Linked DNA regions of Homo sapiens: region 2 is linked to region 1. A link means that fine-mapping ties the variant in region 1 to the expression of a gene that starts in the linked region. Tissue or cell type: aorta. Region 1 holds a variant in brackets; the other region holds the start of a gene. All regions are shown on one strand. Distances are between the middles of the regions.

Region 1 (8,000 bases):
AGGAACCGTTACCAGCTGGAAATTCCTGAGAATTTCACCACTCGCAATTTGCCAGAAGAATACGAGTTGAAATCTACCAAGAAGGGCTGTAAACGATACTGGACCAAAACTATTGAAAAGAAGTTGGCTAATCTCATAAATGCTGAAGAACGGAGGGATGTATCATTGAAGGACTGCATGCGGCGACTGTTCTATAACTTTGATAAAAATTACAAGGACTGGCAGTCTGCTGTAGAGTGTATCGCAGTGTTGGGTAAGACTTTGAACAAGCTTGTTCTCAGGCTTTGATAAGTAGTGCTGTTTGCCAGCTGTATATTATCCCTAAAAATAAGTAATAAGGTATATATGGTACATATTTTGACATGCATATACATATTTGCATCCTGACTAGGCTGCCCACAGCAATTTAAGTTACTTGAAACTCGCTTTTATCTTAGTAGCCCTTTGGCCTTTCTTCAGTTTTTTTTTTTTTTTTTTTTTTTTTGAGACATGGTCTTGCTCTGTTGCCCAGGCTAGAATATGGTGACACAACCATGGCTACTGCAGCCTCGACCTCCCAGGCTTAAGTGATCTTTCCACCTCAGCCTCCCAAGTAGCTGAGATTACAGATATGCACCACCATGCATGGCTAATATTTAAATGTTTGTAGAGAGATGGGGTCTCACTGTGTTGCCAGGACTGGTCTTGAACTCCTGGGCTCAAGTGATCCTCCTGCCTCGGCTTCCCAAAGTGCTGAGGTTACAGGCATGACCCATTGCGCCTGGCCCTTTCTTCAGTCTTTAATAATCGAACAAAAGGTTTTTGTTTTTAGACAGTGTCTTGCTCTGTTACCCAGGACAGACCTCTCGTGTCAGCCTCTTAGGTAGCTAGGATTTACAGGTAAGCACCGGCGTGCCCTGCTTTATTTTTTTGGTGGGGGAAGGGGGAAGGGAGTTGAAGCTTCCCTATGTTGCCCAGGCTGGTCTTGAACTCCTGGCCTCAAGTGATCCTCCAGTCTCCCAAAAGTGCTGGGATTACAGGCATGAGCCACCGCTCCCGGCCCAAAAGATTTTTAAATGTGTTATACTTCATGAGACAGGCTTTATTTTAGATCGAATTTTATTTATCAATAAAAAGTTGAGCTTTTTATTATTTGGTGAATACTGTTTCAAGGTGCTTTGTTACACTATCTGTTGATCCAACATTTAAAAATTGTTTTATTACAACCTTTGCATTTCAGTGAATCCATCTGCATACAATTTTAAAAGAATCATTCCTTTTTTCTGTAGCCAAATTGTCAAAGATTCTTTCCTACAATTGATTTTTCAAAGCCCTGAGTTAGGAATTTACAATTTGGCAACCATCTCAACTTCATAAGCAATTTTGTTCTTTAAATGTCACGGCCAACATTACCTGGAACCATTGCTGTTTTATAGTTTAGGTTTATGTTGTATATTTTTTTTAATTTTTTAGAGACGGGGTCTTGCTGTTTTCAGACTGGAGTACAATGGGATGACTAGCTCACTGCAGCCTCAAACTGCTGGGTTCAAGTGATTCTCCTTCCTCAGCCTCCTGAGTAGCTGGGACTACAGGTGGTCACCATCACACCTGGCTAATTTTTGTATTTTTGGTAGAGACAGGGTTTTTCCCGTGTTGGCCAGGCTGTTCTTGAATTCCTGACCTCAAAGCGATCTGCCCGCCTTGATCTCCGAAAGAGCTGGGATTACACGCATGAGCCACTGCGCCCAGCCCTGTTTTTTTTTTTTTTTTTTTTTTAAATAATGGTAGTTTACTTGAATTTGTAACACAGTAACACAAAACTATTTTGATCTGAACGCAAGTATCTAATGGAACAGAATAATATACTTCCTTTTAGTGTGCTGCATTTGGTTACTGGGTAATTTAAAATTCTTCCTCAGCACAGGTGTTCAAAAACCAGTCTTCAGAGATTGTTTTCATATCAGTGTGCCAACTTTGGCACATTCTGCTAAGTAAGAGGCTTAAGTGTAGCATGTTTCTGCTGTTTTGTGTTTGTTTTGTTTTGTTTTTTGAGACAGAGTCTCTCTGTCGCCCAGGCTGGAGTGCATTGGTGCGATCTTGGCTCATTGCAACCTCTGCCTCCCAGGTTCAAGTGATTCTCCTGCCTCAGCCTCCTGCGTAGCTGGGATTACAGGCATATGCCACGTGTATTAGGCACTGCTAATTTCTGTATTTTTAGTAGAGACGAGGTTTCACCATGTTGGTCAGGCTGGTCCTGAACTGCTGACCTCGTGAACTCTGCCCGCCTAGGCCTCCTGAAGTGCTGGGATTACAGGCGTGAGCCACCGTGCCTGGCCTCTGCTCTATCTTTTAGCTTTCCCTTGGCACTTCTATGGTCCAGATGTTAGAGGGTAAGTATTTTGATGGGGGAGATCGTTGGACTGTAATTGAAAGTTATGTCTTATAATGAAATGTGTTATATAAAGAAGACCTATAAAACACTTAGGCTGATAAAACCCCCAAACGATGAAGCCTCACTTTTACCCTCTCTTTTAACAGATGTTTTACTGTGCCTGGCTAACTATAGTCGAGGGGGTGATGGTCCTATGTGTCGCCCAGTAATTCTGTTGCCGGAAGATACCCCCCCCTTCTTAGAGCTTAAAGGATCACGCCATCCTTGCATTACGAAGACTTTTTTTGGAGATGATTTTATTCCTAATGACATTCTAATAGGCTGTGAGGAAGAGGAGCAGGAAAATGGCAAAGCCTATTGTGTGCTTGTTACTGGACCAAATATGGGGGGCAAGTCTACGCTTATGAGACAGGTAACTGATTCTTAAAGTTTTGTTATCAGAAAGTCATTTGTGACATTAGGAATAACATACTTAGGTGATCATTTTCCAAACACAGTTACATAAAAGTCAGCCAGTGACTTAATAGGAAGCAAAGGGAAATTACTCCCTGTGTTATAAAATTGAGAATTATATTTAGCTGAAACATCGATGCTTAATGTTAAGGGGAATATATGTTAAAAAGGGGAAGGAGGTCAGTCATTCAGGTCATGAGGCCCTTTGACTTGAATTCATTTCCTCAGAAGGTAGGTATATTCATAGTGAACAAAAATACAAAGGCTGTATGAAAAGATGAAAATGTTACAGGTTTATCCTTAAATTAGACTCATTTGCAGAAATGCAAATGAGGTAAGAAAGCAAATATAGTTCATGACCTCTAGCAACTGTTGAAAACTGCTCTTTAGGGATGACATGCTGGCCCTTTTTTTTTTGTTGTTGCCAAGGCTGAAGTGCAGTGGCACCATCACAGCTCACTGCAGCCTCGAACTCCCAGGTTCAACCCTTCCTCCTGCCTCAGCCT[C/T]CCCAGTAGCTGGGACTACAGATGTACACCATCATGCCTAGCTCATTTTTAAAAAAATTTTTTATGGCATTGTATTTATCTTCTCTTTATAACCAGGGGTTGACCAGCCACAGAACTTGTAAAGTTTTTTATATTTTTAAAAGGTTGTAAGAAATAGTAGTAGTTGGCTGGTCCCCGCTGCTCTCCTGCATTATAGTATACTTCTGTTCACCTAGTTTGCTAGAGAGAGGCAGTATAGTGTGTATAGTGATTTCCAAACTTTTTCTTTAAATCAGAATCACCTGAAAGAATGTGACAACGTGTAAAAAAAAAAAAAAAGGTGCAGAGATTCCATCCTGACATGGATTCACTTGATTGGAATTGATTCTAGGCATCTCAGTAGTTTTAAAGAGCTCCTAGGTGATTCTATTCTGGCCAGCGTTGAGAATCACTAGGGTAGTGGGTTGGTAAGCAGGCTCTGATGTTTTAAAGGCCAGGTGAGGCCCTATGCCTCTTGTCTCTCTTAGCCTCAACTTTCTCCATGTTAGCAAATGGATTTCAGAACAGAACCAACGTACATGTGATTGTGAAAGTTGTTTTAGAGTGCCTAGCTCTTACGTAAGGGTTCATAAGAAAGACAAAAGTTTATGAAACTGTTACTACCAGTCATAAAAGACCTTTTCCTCCCTCATTCACAGGCTGGCTTATTAGCTGTAATGGCCCAGATGGGTTGTTACGTCCCTGCTGAAGTGTGCAGGCTCACACCAATTGATAGAGTGTTTACTAGACTTGGTGCCTCAGACAGAATAATGTCAGGTGAGTTTTTTGTTTCCCACTTAAGTTCTCATTCAGTCATTTAGATGTGATAAAAGATATTTGCTTCTTGTATATGAGCCTTTTAAATCTAATATTTGATTTTTCTGGTGTTACTTTAAAAACATCACTTTTTAAGAACTGCATAGTCTCTCTCTCTTTTTTTTTTTTTTGAGATGGAGTTTCCCTCTTGTTGCCCAAGCTGGAGTGCAATGGCACGATCTTGGCTCACTGCAACCTCTGCTTCCAGGTTCAAGTGATTCTCCTGCCTCAGCCTCTCGAGTAGCTGGGATTACAGGCGCATGCCATCACGCCCAGCTAATTTTTTGTATTTTTAGTAGAAGCGGGGTTTCACCATGTTAGGCTGGTCTCTTAACTCCTGACCTCAGGTGATCTGCTTGCCTCGGCCTCCCAAAGTGCTGGGATTACAGGCGTGAGCCACCGTGCCCGGCCAATAATTGCATAGTCTCTTAATGAGATTTAATCTTTTATACCAATATGTGTAGCTCATGATAGCTATATAACCTAGAAGATGAATTTATGTAATATGATTTGCAAAATGAGTATTCATTTGTGATTTTTTTTTTTTTAAGGTGAAAGTACATTTTTTGTTGAATTAAGTGAAACTGCCAGCATACTCATGCATGCAACAGCACATTCTCTGGTGCTTGTGGATGAATTAGGTAAGACATTAAACTTCTCATTTGAAGACTATCTATCTTAAAAACATTTGTACAAATAACTATTTTTATAGAAGATTATCTGAAGTACATTTAAACAATATGAATGTTTTTAGAGCACGCACTCACCATTGTGGCACAGACCGATAGTTGGAGATAAAAGGTGATATTGTGAAAGGTTTTTGATTACCCATTAATTATTAGGCCTTACACTGTTTAGTTGTAATAAAACATTTGTTATACTACGGGGATGAGAACACTAATAGGAGGACTCAGGAAGTTTATGACCTTGAGCGATACTGTATTTTCTTTAAAAGAAACCTCACTCCCCATGGGCTGCTAAGCAGACTCGTGTAGCTAAACAAGGCCTATTTATAGAATGCTTTTAGACGTGGATGTACTAACCGATGTTGCTTTTCTGTCCTAGCATTTTTGTTTTAATTCCTTTTTTGTTTTAATTCCTTTGAGTTACTTCCTTATGCATATTTTACTTTAACAGGAAGAGGTACTGCAACATTTGATGGGACGGCAATAGCAAATGCAGTTGTTAAAGAACTTGCTGAGACTATAAAATGTCGTACATTATTTTCAACTCACTACCATTCATTAGTAGAAGATTATTCTCAAAATGTTGCTGTGCGCCTAGGACATATGGTATGTGCAAATTGTTTTTTTCCACAAATTCGGTTTTTTGAGAGGGCACTTCTCTTGCTAGCACATGTATCGCTAATATTTTTCTTTCTTAAGGCATGCATGGTAGAAAATGAATGTGAAGACCCCAGCCAGGAGACTATTACGTTCCTCTATAAATTCATTAAGGGAGCTTGTCCTAAAAGCTATGGCTTTAATGCAGCAAGGCTTGCTAATCTCCCAGAGGAAGTTATTCAAAAGGGACATAGAAAAGCAAGAGAATTTGAGAAGATGAATCAGTCACTACGATTATTTCGGTAACTAACTAACTATAATGGAATTATAACTAACTGACCTTAAGTTTCAAAGAAACAGTAAAAGGGGAAGGGATGATGCACTATGAAAAAACAAAAAAACTTTTTTTTTTTTTTTTTTAATTTTAAGGGAAGTTTGCCTGGCTAGTGAAAGGTCAACTGTAGATGCTGAAGCTGTCCATAAATTGCTGACTTTGATTAAGGAATTATAGACTGACTACATTGGAAGCTTTGAGTTGACTTCTGACAAAGGTGGTAAATTCAGACAACATTATGATCTAATAAACTTTATTTTTTAAAAATGACCATTTTTCCATTTTCTTTCTAGGAAATTAAACCCTTTTAATTCTTATCTACCTTCTACATAATGGTTATTGAATACTCCACAATATATTAAGTCTAGATGTTATGGTACATGCATACACTTTCAGGCTGTTTTATACCCACTGTCACCAATACACATAAATGGGGGAGGAAAAGCTATGAAACTGTATAGGGCTGTATATATACTTGTCTCAGCTTAATGCAGGAAATTGGTTTAATTTCCAGCAGTTTTGTCTAAACTGTTCAAAAAAAAACTATGAACAGAGTTCAAATACAGGACTGTTTGTTTTGAAGAGACTTTCTAAAGTGTACTTAAAACATAGTAGTTTTTTACCTTTCACAAAACTGAGTTACAAGAATACTTTTGTTTTACAGTGCATCCCTTCCTAGGAAGTCTCATTAAAACACTCACTTTTTCTAGGGGTGATTTTGAATGCTGCACAGGGAAGGGAAGGAAATAATAGTCTTAACTTTTCTTAAAGGATACCAGAAACATTGCTGGATATAATTTAAGATTAGTGTTTTCTCTTTCATAGAAAGAACGTACATACTGGGACATGAGTACAGTTACAGCAAGTCTAGGTGTGCTAACAAAACAGGGCACATTCAAGTACAGTAAGATTTTGCTTGAAATTAAAAACAAACTACATGAGATTAAAGCATTAAAATCATATTTCTCAATCTGAATACATGTTAAAAAAAAAAAATCAAAAGGAACGCAGAAGTGCTAGCTCACATTTTTACCATATTACAAAAGCAATTGGTACCCATGTCCATAAAGGCAGCAACAAAGCTGCTTGTCTATTGAAGATTACTACTGCAAATTGGACTGCATTCAATGCTAGTTGTAAAAACACCAGCTTTTCAGAAGTTGGTATCTGTACAAAATTGCAGCTTATTTTCTTCACTTCTGTCCCTTCAAGTCTTTACACAGTAATGCTAAAACACCCAGCTTTGAGATCCTGAGTCAATATATTGCCACTTTCTTTTTGGTAGCTTGAGCTTCATAGTGTCAACTGACCTTGTGTATCCATTTTTAATACAGTCTCTTCCTGTAGCATGGGCAAATATTTTAAATCTTCTTCCAAAAAAGTGTTTTAAGTTATGATGTTACAATGGCAGGACTTTTTCTTTAGGGAAGGAATTCAGTTGTGCTGCAATGTATTAGATTCTATAGGTGGAGCAGAGTCATATAGTGTATCTGTATCATGTGTAGGCTCACCAGCTAATGTACAAGGATTAGACAGTGTTCCAGCACCACAGTCACAGAAAAACCTAAAGCAAAATGAAACCCAAATATTAGAAAAGTGAGGGGGAAAGTAATTGGGTAATATATCAAGCAAGTGTGCTACATACCTATCATGTCTAATAAACTCTACATCATGTCCCTGATGGCACTTCTTAATGCAGTTCACACATATGGCATTTCGATCTGTGGTGTTACAAGTATGACATCTAAAAAGCAAAAGCTTAAATTACTTTTCTCAAACATGTCATTAATGCAAAACATTCCATTCTGTTTATATATTACTATGACCTTTGGCTTTAAGAGGACCAAAACAAAATTCTTTGTGGCTCCAGCCCAGATTAATTCTGAAAAGGAACTTTAATGGAGTAAGTGATTTTCCTGTCATCTGTGTCTTCGGAGGGAAGAGAAATGATTTGTAAATTGTATAAAGGCAGTTCTTTCCACTTTAAAAGCCTCTCAAATGTTTCTGGGCTGAAAACAATTTTTGGAGGCGTGAAGAGTCAAAACTGTCACAGTGACTGGGATATATCAAACACTTAACCCCGACATCTTTACCTTGAAATTTCTAGGAAAACATTACACAACATGAGTTACATGAATGACATCAGTTACTGTAGCATTAGGTTTTTCCATAGTTATGGTCTTTGTTTTGTTTTGTAGAGACAGGGTCTCCCTATGTTG
Region 2 (8,521 bases), 22 kb before region 1:
TGCCAAGCACTGGGCTGAGGGCTTCATAATGCCCTTTCACTCAATGCTTAGCACAACCCATGAAGAAGGTAGTGTTAATATCATCCCTGTTTTACAGATGTAGAAACTGAGGCACAGGCTAAATAACTTGCCCAACAAGCTCGTGCAGTTTAGTAAGCAGCTCAGCTGGGATGTGAACACAAACTTTGAATACAGAGCTCTTAACCAGTAGGCCAGAGGTTCCCAAACACCTAGTATATTTACTACCTTAGTACTTTCCTGCCACATCTCCTAGGCCAAAACAACTCCATTGATTGTTATGCAATTTACTAAGTGTAGCCATTTGAAAAAAAAATACATATAAAAGAAAAATATTTTTATTCAGTTTTCAAAATAACCCATATATAGTCATGGAATGTATGTGTTGGTTGGGCACTGCAGACTAAAGACAGTTTAGGGCCGGGCACGGTGGCTCAGGCCTGTAATCCTAGCACTTTGGGAGGCCAAGTAGAGAGAAGGGCTTGAGCCCAAGAGTTGGAGACCGGCCTGGGCAACATAGCAAGACCCAGTCTCTACAGAAAATAAAATTATCAGGGTGTGAGGACGCACACCTGCAGTCTTAGCTGCTTGGGAGGCTGAGGCTGGAGGATCAGCCTGGGCAACAGAGTGAGACCCTGTCTCAGAAAAAAAAAAAAAAAAAGACAGACTTTTATTCAGATATGCATGCAGGAGTTCACAGAAAAAAAAAGTGAGTCCAGGAGGCTGTTATTTGGCATTTATACAACTTTTTTTTTCTTGAATCTCGAAATCTACTTTATATATACCATTTAATAGGGGAAGAGGAGGGAGAAAAAGCCTTCCATGGGAAGAACAAATAGGTTTCTGGGGGAACAAAAGGGAGATAAGAATGTTTGTTTTTGCAGGTGCAAGTGGTCTTTGTCTTTTTTTCTGGCCACTAAAACTCCCCTAGAGAGGAGATTTACGGCAGCTTCACTCCCAGAAATTTCTGCTGTTAGTCGCATAAGGGAAGCTTTGAAACGGCATCTTTCTGCATCTGTTGGCTCTCAAATGTCTTCAGTTCCAAGTAACATTCATGCCAATTCTGGGGGTCTGAGTGTCCCCACATAATACATGTGTTCTCTTGTCTTTTAATGAAGTTTGTGGGAGGCATCTAACTGTAGCCTCCAAAATTTGGCCCATAGGTACTACTGTCCTTATCAAAGACGAGGAAACAAGTTCAGAAAAGTATTAATTGCTCCGAGTTATCTGCTTGGCTAGCTAGGATCAGAGCTCAGTTCTCCATTTAACCCAAAGCCCAGGCTCTTAACCTCTTACAACTGGCGCATCCCCTCTGAACCTCCATTTCCTCCCTGTAAAAGAATAACATCGGCCGGGCGCAGTGGCTCACATCTATAATCCCAGCACTTTGGGAGGCAGAGATGGGCGGATCACGAGGTCAGGAGTTTGAGACCAGCCTGGCCAACATGGTGAAACCCCATCTCTACTAAAAATACAAAACTTAGCTGGGTGTGTTGGTGCCTGTAACCCCAGCTACTCAGGAGACTGAGGCAGGAGAATTGCCTTAACCTGGGAGGCGGAGGTTGTGGTGAGCCAAGATCGTGCCATTGCACTCCAGCCTCGGTGACAGAGCAAGACTCCATCCCCAAAAAAACAAACAACAACAACAAAAAGAGAATAACGTTATATTCAGTTGAACCAAAATGAATTAAATATTAATATTTGTACTTCAAAAACGGTCCAGCTTGGCTGGGCGCAGTGGCTCCCGCCTGTAATCCCAACATTTTGGGAGGCCGAGGCAGGAGGATCATTTGAGGTCAGGAGTTTGAGACCAGCCTGGCCAACATGGTGAAATCCTGTCTCTACTAAAAATACAAAAATTAGCTGGGCAGTAGTAGCGCGTGCCGGTAATCCCAGCTATTCAGGAGGCTGAGGAAGGAGAATTGCTTGAGCTTGGGAGGTGAAAGTTGTGGTGAGCTGAGACTGCACTACTGCACACCAGTCTGGGAGACAGAGTAAGACCCTGTCTCAAAACAAAACAACCAAAAAACCAAAAAGGTCCAGCTTGGGCAACATAGTGAAACTTCGTCTCTACAGAAAATTTTTAAAATACTAGCAGGGCACCGGGCACAGTGGCTCATACCTGTAATCCCAGCACTTTGGGAGGCTGAGGCAGGCGGGTCACTTGTGGTCAGGAGTTTGGGATCAGGCAGGCCAACATGGTGAAACCGTGTCTCTACTAAAAAACAAAAATTAGCTGGGCATGGTGGTAGGCACCAGTAATCCTAGCACTCAGGAGGCTGAGGCATGAGAATTGCCTGAACCCGCAAAGCAGGGGTTGCAGTGAACCAAGATGGCGTCACTGTACTCCAGCCTGGGTGACAGAATAAGACTCCTCAATTAAAAAAAAAAAAAATTAGCTGGGCATGGTGTTGCGGGCCTGTGGTCCCAGGTACTCAGGAGGCTGAGGTGAGAGGATTACTTAAGCCTGGGAGGTTGAGGCTACAGTAAGCCAAGATCACGCCACTATACTCCAGCCTCTGTGACAGAGCCAGACCCTGTCTCAAAAAAATTTTAAAAAGGGCAAATTTTGGCAATTTCACATAGTTCAACCTAGTATAAGGTGGTTGTAATAACTAAATGAGATAAAATGGTGTTAAATTGGAAGTATTATAGTATTTCTGTTAACAACATAGGGCTCCAGAACCAGCTTCCTTGAGTTTAAATCCAGGCTCCACCACTTCCTAGCTATGCAGTCATGGGCAAGTTACTTGACCCAACTGTGCCTCAGCTTCATCCATGATATGGAGATACAGGATAACCAGCCTCTTACGTGCAATTCTGAAATCCAAAAAGCTCTGTAAACCAAAAGTTTGGGGGTAAACTCATTTGGTAGCAAATTTTGACCTGAGGCTATTTATAGTCTATATTCTGTATTCTTTCTACTTAGTATGAATAAGCATGTAAGTTTTACTGCATGTTTGATTTCAGCATGTTCCCCCAGACTCTCTGGGGGTGTTTACGTATGCCGGTGGGGGAAAGAGACCAACTCTCAAATATTATCTCAAACAGTTGGTTTCACTGTGCTTGCTTGGGTAGCACATATACCAAAATTGGAATGACCCCTGCACAGGGATGAAATGCAAATTCGTGAAGCATACTGTATTTTTCTTAGCACATACCACCTTTGGCAATATTCTTTTTTTTTTTTTGAGAGGGAGTCTTGCTCTGTCGCCCAGGCTGGAGTGCAGAGGCGCGATCTCGGCTCACTGCAAGCTCCGCCTCCCGGGTTCACACCATTCTCCTACCTCAGCCTCCCCAGTAGCTGGGACTACAGGCGTGTGCTACCACGCCAGGCTAATTTTTTGTATTTTTAGTAGAGGCGGGGTTTCACTGTGTTAGCCAGGATGGTCTCGATCTCCTGACCTCGTGATCCGCCCACCTCCGCCCCCCCCCCGAAGTGCCGAGTGCTGGGACTACAGGCGTGAGCCACTGCGCCCGGCCCCCGCCTTTTTTTTTTAGATTGATTTTATTACTTGCCTAGCAAAGGAGAACCTTCTGGCAGAACAGTCTCCAAGAACAAGGCAAACAACTAATTTTACATAGGTTTTTACCAATGTACAGCTGTTGATTGTGACTGGTTTCCGGCAATCTGGATTTCACAATCTGGATAAGGGGACAAACAATTGTCTGTCTTCCACTATCTTTCTTGAATTTGAATAGAACCTTTTTATTCTCATAGCCTCTTAGCTTTCTTTCTTTTTTTTTTGAGACGGAGTTTCGCTCTTGTCGCCCAGGCTGGAGTGCAGTGGCGCGACCTTGGCTCACTGCAAACGCTGCCTCCCAGGTTCAAGTTATTCTCCTGCCTCAGCCTCCCAAGTAGCTGGGATTACAGGCGCATGCCACCACGCCCGGCTAATTTTTGGATTTTTAGTAGAGACGGGGGTTTCACCATGTTGACTAGGCTGGTCTTCAACGCCTGACCTCAGGTGATCCGCCCGCCTCGGCATCCCAAAGTGCTGGGATTACAGGCGTGAGCCACTGCGCCCGGCCTCTCATAGTCTCTTAGCTTTCTAAAATTTGAAAAATCCTGTAAAGACACACCTGGGTCAAAGGGCTCAGATAACGGACTGTGGCCCTTAAGTACTTACGTCACAGGTTATTGAGAGGATCGATTTAGTTACCAGATGTAAAATGCTGGGATCAGTGCCTGGCAAAGGAAAACTTTGTACAGCTGCAGGCTTTCACCATACACAACAGCATCGCTAACGAATGCTATTACAATATTCATTTAGCGTTTACCAAGTGCCTACTCTATACAAATCTTGAGAATACAACGTGAAGGTGAACTGCTGACTAAAGTTTGGTCCCTTTCGCTCCGTCTCCTTGCGAAAATGCTCTAACGGCAGGAGGTCACGCGAGCGCTGGACGCGTTTCTCCCCGCGAGCCCCTTTCCGAGGCCTTTCGGGTCCCCCCGGTTATCCCCGCCCGGGCGGTGCGCGCCCCCGCTGTTCCCGCTTCCGCTCCAGAGAGGCAGGGCTTTCCGAGCCTGCTAGCCCCGCGGCCGCAACTAACCCCGGGTCGGAGTGTTCCGGCCCGGCCAGCCCCGCGGCGTGAGGGAAGGGGAGCTCAGCAGTTCCCCGCGCGGGGCCCAGGCGTCGGCGGCAGGGCGGGCCCCTCACCGCCAGCGTGCCAGCCCCGCCCCTACCCACCAGTGTGCCAGCCCCGCCCTTCCCCACGTCGCCGCGCGCCCGGGGGCGGGGCCTGGCGCGCACCGCCCGCGCACGGCGAGGCGCCTGTTGATTGGCCACTGGGGCCCGGGTTCCTCCGGCGGAGCGCGCCTCCCCCCAGATTTCCCGCCAGCAGGAGCCGCGCGGTAGATGCGGTGCTTTTAGGAGCTCCGTCCGACAGAACGGTTGGGCCTTGCCGGCTGTCGGTATGTCGCGACAGAGCACCCTGTACAGCTTCTTCCCCAAGTCTCCGGCGCTGAGTGATGCCAACAAGGCCTCGGCCAGGGCCTCACGCGAAGGCGGCCGTGCCGCCGCTGCCCCCGGGGCCTCTCCTTCCCCAGGCGGGGATGCGGCCTGGAGCGAGGCTGGGCCTGGGCCCAGGCCCTTGGCGCGCTCCGCGTCACCGCCCAAGGCGAAGAACCTCAACGGAGGGCTGCGGAGATCGGTAGCGCCTGCTGCCCCCACCAGGTAGCGGGGTGGGGGTGGGGTCGAAGGCGGGGGCATAGCGGCGGGGCGCTTGGAACCCGGCGAGGGGAGGCTCGCACAGGGGGTTGGGGGGGTGCACGGCCTGGCCCTGGGCTCGGAGGAGGCGGGGCCGCAGAGTTGGCTTGAATGAGTGCAGGGGTCGAGTCTGGAGCATTTGGGGGTGTAGCTTGTAAACAGGGTCGGAGGAGAGAGGCTGTGCAGGAAGAGGGCTGCAGGGGAGACGCGGAGAGTTCGGGCCTTTTGGAGGGAGGAGACGCGTCCCGCCAGGTGGGGGTGCTGGGCTAAGGAAGGGGCGACGCGCGCAGCTCCGGGTGGGGAGGGGGCCTGGGAGGTGGGAGCACTGGGGGTGGGGCGAGAAGGGGAAGGCGCCCGGCCCACTTGGTGGGCGGGGCGGGGGGCGGGGTGGCGGGAAGGAGGAATGCCTGCGGGAGGCCGAACGGGGAGAGTCCGGTGGTGTGGGGTGCGAAAGGAGGTTCCTCGGCCGGCGCGGAGATAGTGAGTTGGGGCTCCAGTAGTCGATCGAGGTAGACACTTAGAGGTAGTTAAGAGCCGCGGTCGCCGAGACGCCTTGGGGACGGTGGGCCTTCGGCCTAGGTGAGGGGCCGCCGAGGGGGTGGGCCACGAGCTGCGAGCGCGGGGGGGTGTGTCACCATGGGGACCGCGGGGCCTAATTGGGCGGGGCGGGGCCGTGGGGAGCCGAAGTGCTGGGATCCGGCTGGGTCCTTCGGTAGGTAGGCTGCACGTGCACCGAGACGAAGATAGAATATTTTGACGTATGTGGAAATTCGTGTCGAGTGGAAAATATTTTATTTTATGAAATAGTGTAATTTTTATGGGGCACCACTGGGCTTTTAGAGGCCTTAATCGGGCGCTGGACAAAGATGTGTGGACGTGAGTGACTCCGGGGAAGCCTGTCGGGAGTTGTCCTCACTTTATGGGCAGTTAAGTGCTTTTTTTTTTTTTTCCTTTTTGAGAGAGAGTTTCGCTCAAGTCCAGGCTGGAGTGCAATGGCGCGATCTCAGCTCACCGCAATCTCCGCGTCCCGGCTTCAAGCGATTCCCCAGCTTCAGCCTCCCGAGTAGTCGGGATTACAGGAATGCGCCCCCACACCCCGCCAATTTTGTATTTTTAGTAGAGACGGGGTTTCTCCATGTTGGTCAGGCTAGTCTCGGAATTCCCGACCTCAGGTGATCCACCCGCCTCGGCCTCAAAGTGCTGGGATTACAGGCGCTAGCCACCGCGCCCGGTCTGTTTAGGGCTTTTTATCCGGGCAGCTGGCGACATTTTGAAAAGCTTGCTTTTGCTGTTTGCCAGATACATATATATGTATTTTGAGACAGAGTCTTGCTCTTTTGTCCAGGCTAGAGTGCAGTGGCGCGTTCTTGGCTCACCACAACCTCTGTCTCTGGATCAAGAGATTATCCTGCCTCAGCCTCCCAAGTAGCTGGGACTACAGGTGCGCCCCACCACGCCTGGCTAATTTTTGTATTTTTAGTAGAGACGGGTTTCACTATGTTGGCCAGGCTGGTATCGAACTCCTGACCTCTTGATCGGCCCGCATTGGCCTACCAAAGTGCTGGGATTACAGGCATGAACCACCGAGCCCGGCCGTTTGTCAGATACTAAACACAAAGTTTAATGGTCGCTATTTGAACAAACGAAGAAATAAAGGCTCAGAAAAAATAACTCATTCAAGATAAGAGCCAGTTCGTGTTTTTTGTTTGGTTTTGTTTTGAAATGGAGTCTCGCTCTGTCGCCCAGGCTGGAGTGCTGTGGCGCTTTCTCGGCTCACTGCAACCTCTGCCCGCCGGGTTCAAGTGATTCTCCTGCCTCAGCTTCCCGAGTAGCTGGGATTACGGGTGTGCCCACCGCGGTCCGGCTGATTTTTCACCATGGAGTTTCACCATGTTGGCCAGGCTGGTCTTGAAACTGCTGACCTCAAGTGGTCCACCCACTTCAGCCTCCCAAAGTGCTGGGATTACAGGTGTGAGCCACCGTGCCCGGCCGCTAGTTAGTGGTTTTGAGTAATGGATTTCAAATCCATTTAAATCCAGTTTAAAGTGTCCTAAAGGAATTCTGAGATTTTTCTAAGTGTAATTATAGTGTTACCCTTGTTTAAGCGACCCTTTCCCGCAGTTTAAATATATATAGTTGTGCATTAGTAGAATATGCTTGTGGGGAACAGAGCCAGCATCCGCAATAACAAACTCCTGGTTAGAAAAGCATGACGTATTGTTTACTTGAGCATGAATTGATTGTTGAATCCAAACCAAACGGGTGTATTTATTGTAAGGATGTACTTTACATTCATATTGAATAGCGTATGTTATTTGTTTCTTGAGGTTGAGTTTAAGAGACTTGTAAAAATAAAACGTATACATTTCACCTCCCGTTATGGAGAGGATTCCAGGGTATTCAAGAAAGATGGGCATTTGATACTAGGTTTCTAAAGAAACTGCAGTGTCTAGATCACTCTGCCGAGCACAGCATTAGGCATTATGGATCCTGGATACAACCATGAACAGGACAAAGCAAAGAGGCAATTGTAGACTCCAAGTGGAAAGGGGACGGAGAGGATGCGGGTCAGGCTAGGCTCTCAGCTCTGTAAACCGAAACCAGAAGGACAAATAAGCTTAGACAGATTATAGTGAGAGTGGGAAGCTGGTTCAGGAAGAGGAAGGTCTGCAAATTGTGGGTAGGATGAAAGGAGGAGGAGGGAGCATTGGAGAAGTTAAGCAGAGATCCAATCATGAACAGTCTGATGAGCTACAGAGACATTCGGACTTACTCCATGAATCATTTAAGCCTTAAAACATGTTGAGCGTATTTTTTTTTTTTTTGAGACGGAATTTCACTCTTGTTGCCCAAGCTGGAGTGCAGTGGTGTGGTCTCAGCTCACTGCAACCTCCGCCTCCTGGGTTCCAGCGATTCTCCTGCCTCATCCTCTCAAGTACCTGGTATTACAGGTGCCTGCCACCACGCCCAGCTAATTTTTGTGTTTATAGTAGAGACGGGTTTCACCATGTTGGTCAGGCCAGTCGTGAACTCCTGACCTCAGGTGATCCACCCACCTCAGCCTCCCAAAGTGTTGGGATTACAGGCGTGAACCACCGCACCTGGCCGTGAGCCACCGTGTCTGTCCGAGCATCTTTTAATGTTTGTCATTTAGATTTCTTCTTGTGCTGAAGTGTTTGTCTTTTGCTGTTTCTTTTTTTTTTCCTAGTTCTTTGTCATTTGTGTGTGATATAAATGTCTTCTTTCACAATGAGTTCTTTCATTTAGTTTATGGCTTTGTTGTTGTTGTTGAA

Alleles and levels. Positions count from the first base shown, and alleles are read on the strand shown. Sizes are in standard deviations (SD) of each study's normalised expression.
For the expression in aorta of the gene that starts at base 4,847 in region 2, T is the high allele of the variant in region 1 and C is the other (small effect, 0.20 SD a copy in GTEx).

The links. PIP is the estimated chance that this variant, and not a neighbour inherited with it, causes the effect.
Region 2: MSH6 starts here. The variant in region 1 is fine-mapped to the expression of MSH6 in aorta (GTEx, PIP above 0.99).

Annotation. Positions count from the first base shown.
Region 1 is chr2:47,800,903-47,808,902 of GRCh38, forward strand. MSH6 (mutS homolog 6) reads left to right here. Exons shown (of 10, transcript NM_000179.3): 4 at 1-253; 5 at 2,518-2,783; 6 at 4,008-4,125; 7 at 4,716-4,805; 8 at 5,302-5,456; 9 at 5,550-5,749; 10 at 5,877-6,051. The coding sequence ends at 5,958. It overlaps FBXO11 (F-box protein 11), which reads right to left. Exons shown (of 23, transcript NM_001190274.2): 22 at 7,427-7,525; 23 at 6,018-7,345. The coding sequence ends at 7,216. Among named protein-coding and RNA genes, the nearest start is that of MSH6, 22 kb to the left of the region's middle. The variant C/T (reference allele first, on the strand shown) is at 3,331.
Region 2 is chr2:47,778,299-47,786,819 of GRCh38, forward strand. It overlaps MSH6 (mutS homolog 6), which reads left to right and starts at 4,847. Exons shown (of 10, transcript NM_000179.3): 1 at 4,847-5,195. The coding sequence starts at 4,936. RefSeq lists silencers at 3,088-3,269, 4,420-4,899, 5,180-5,339, 5,540-5,629 and an enhancer at 4,220-4,289.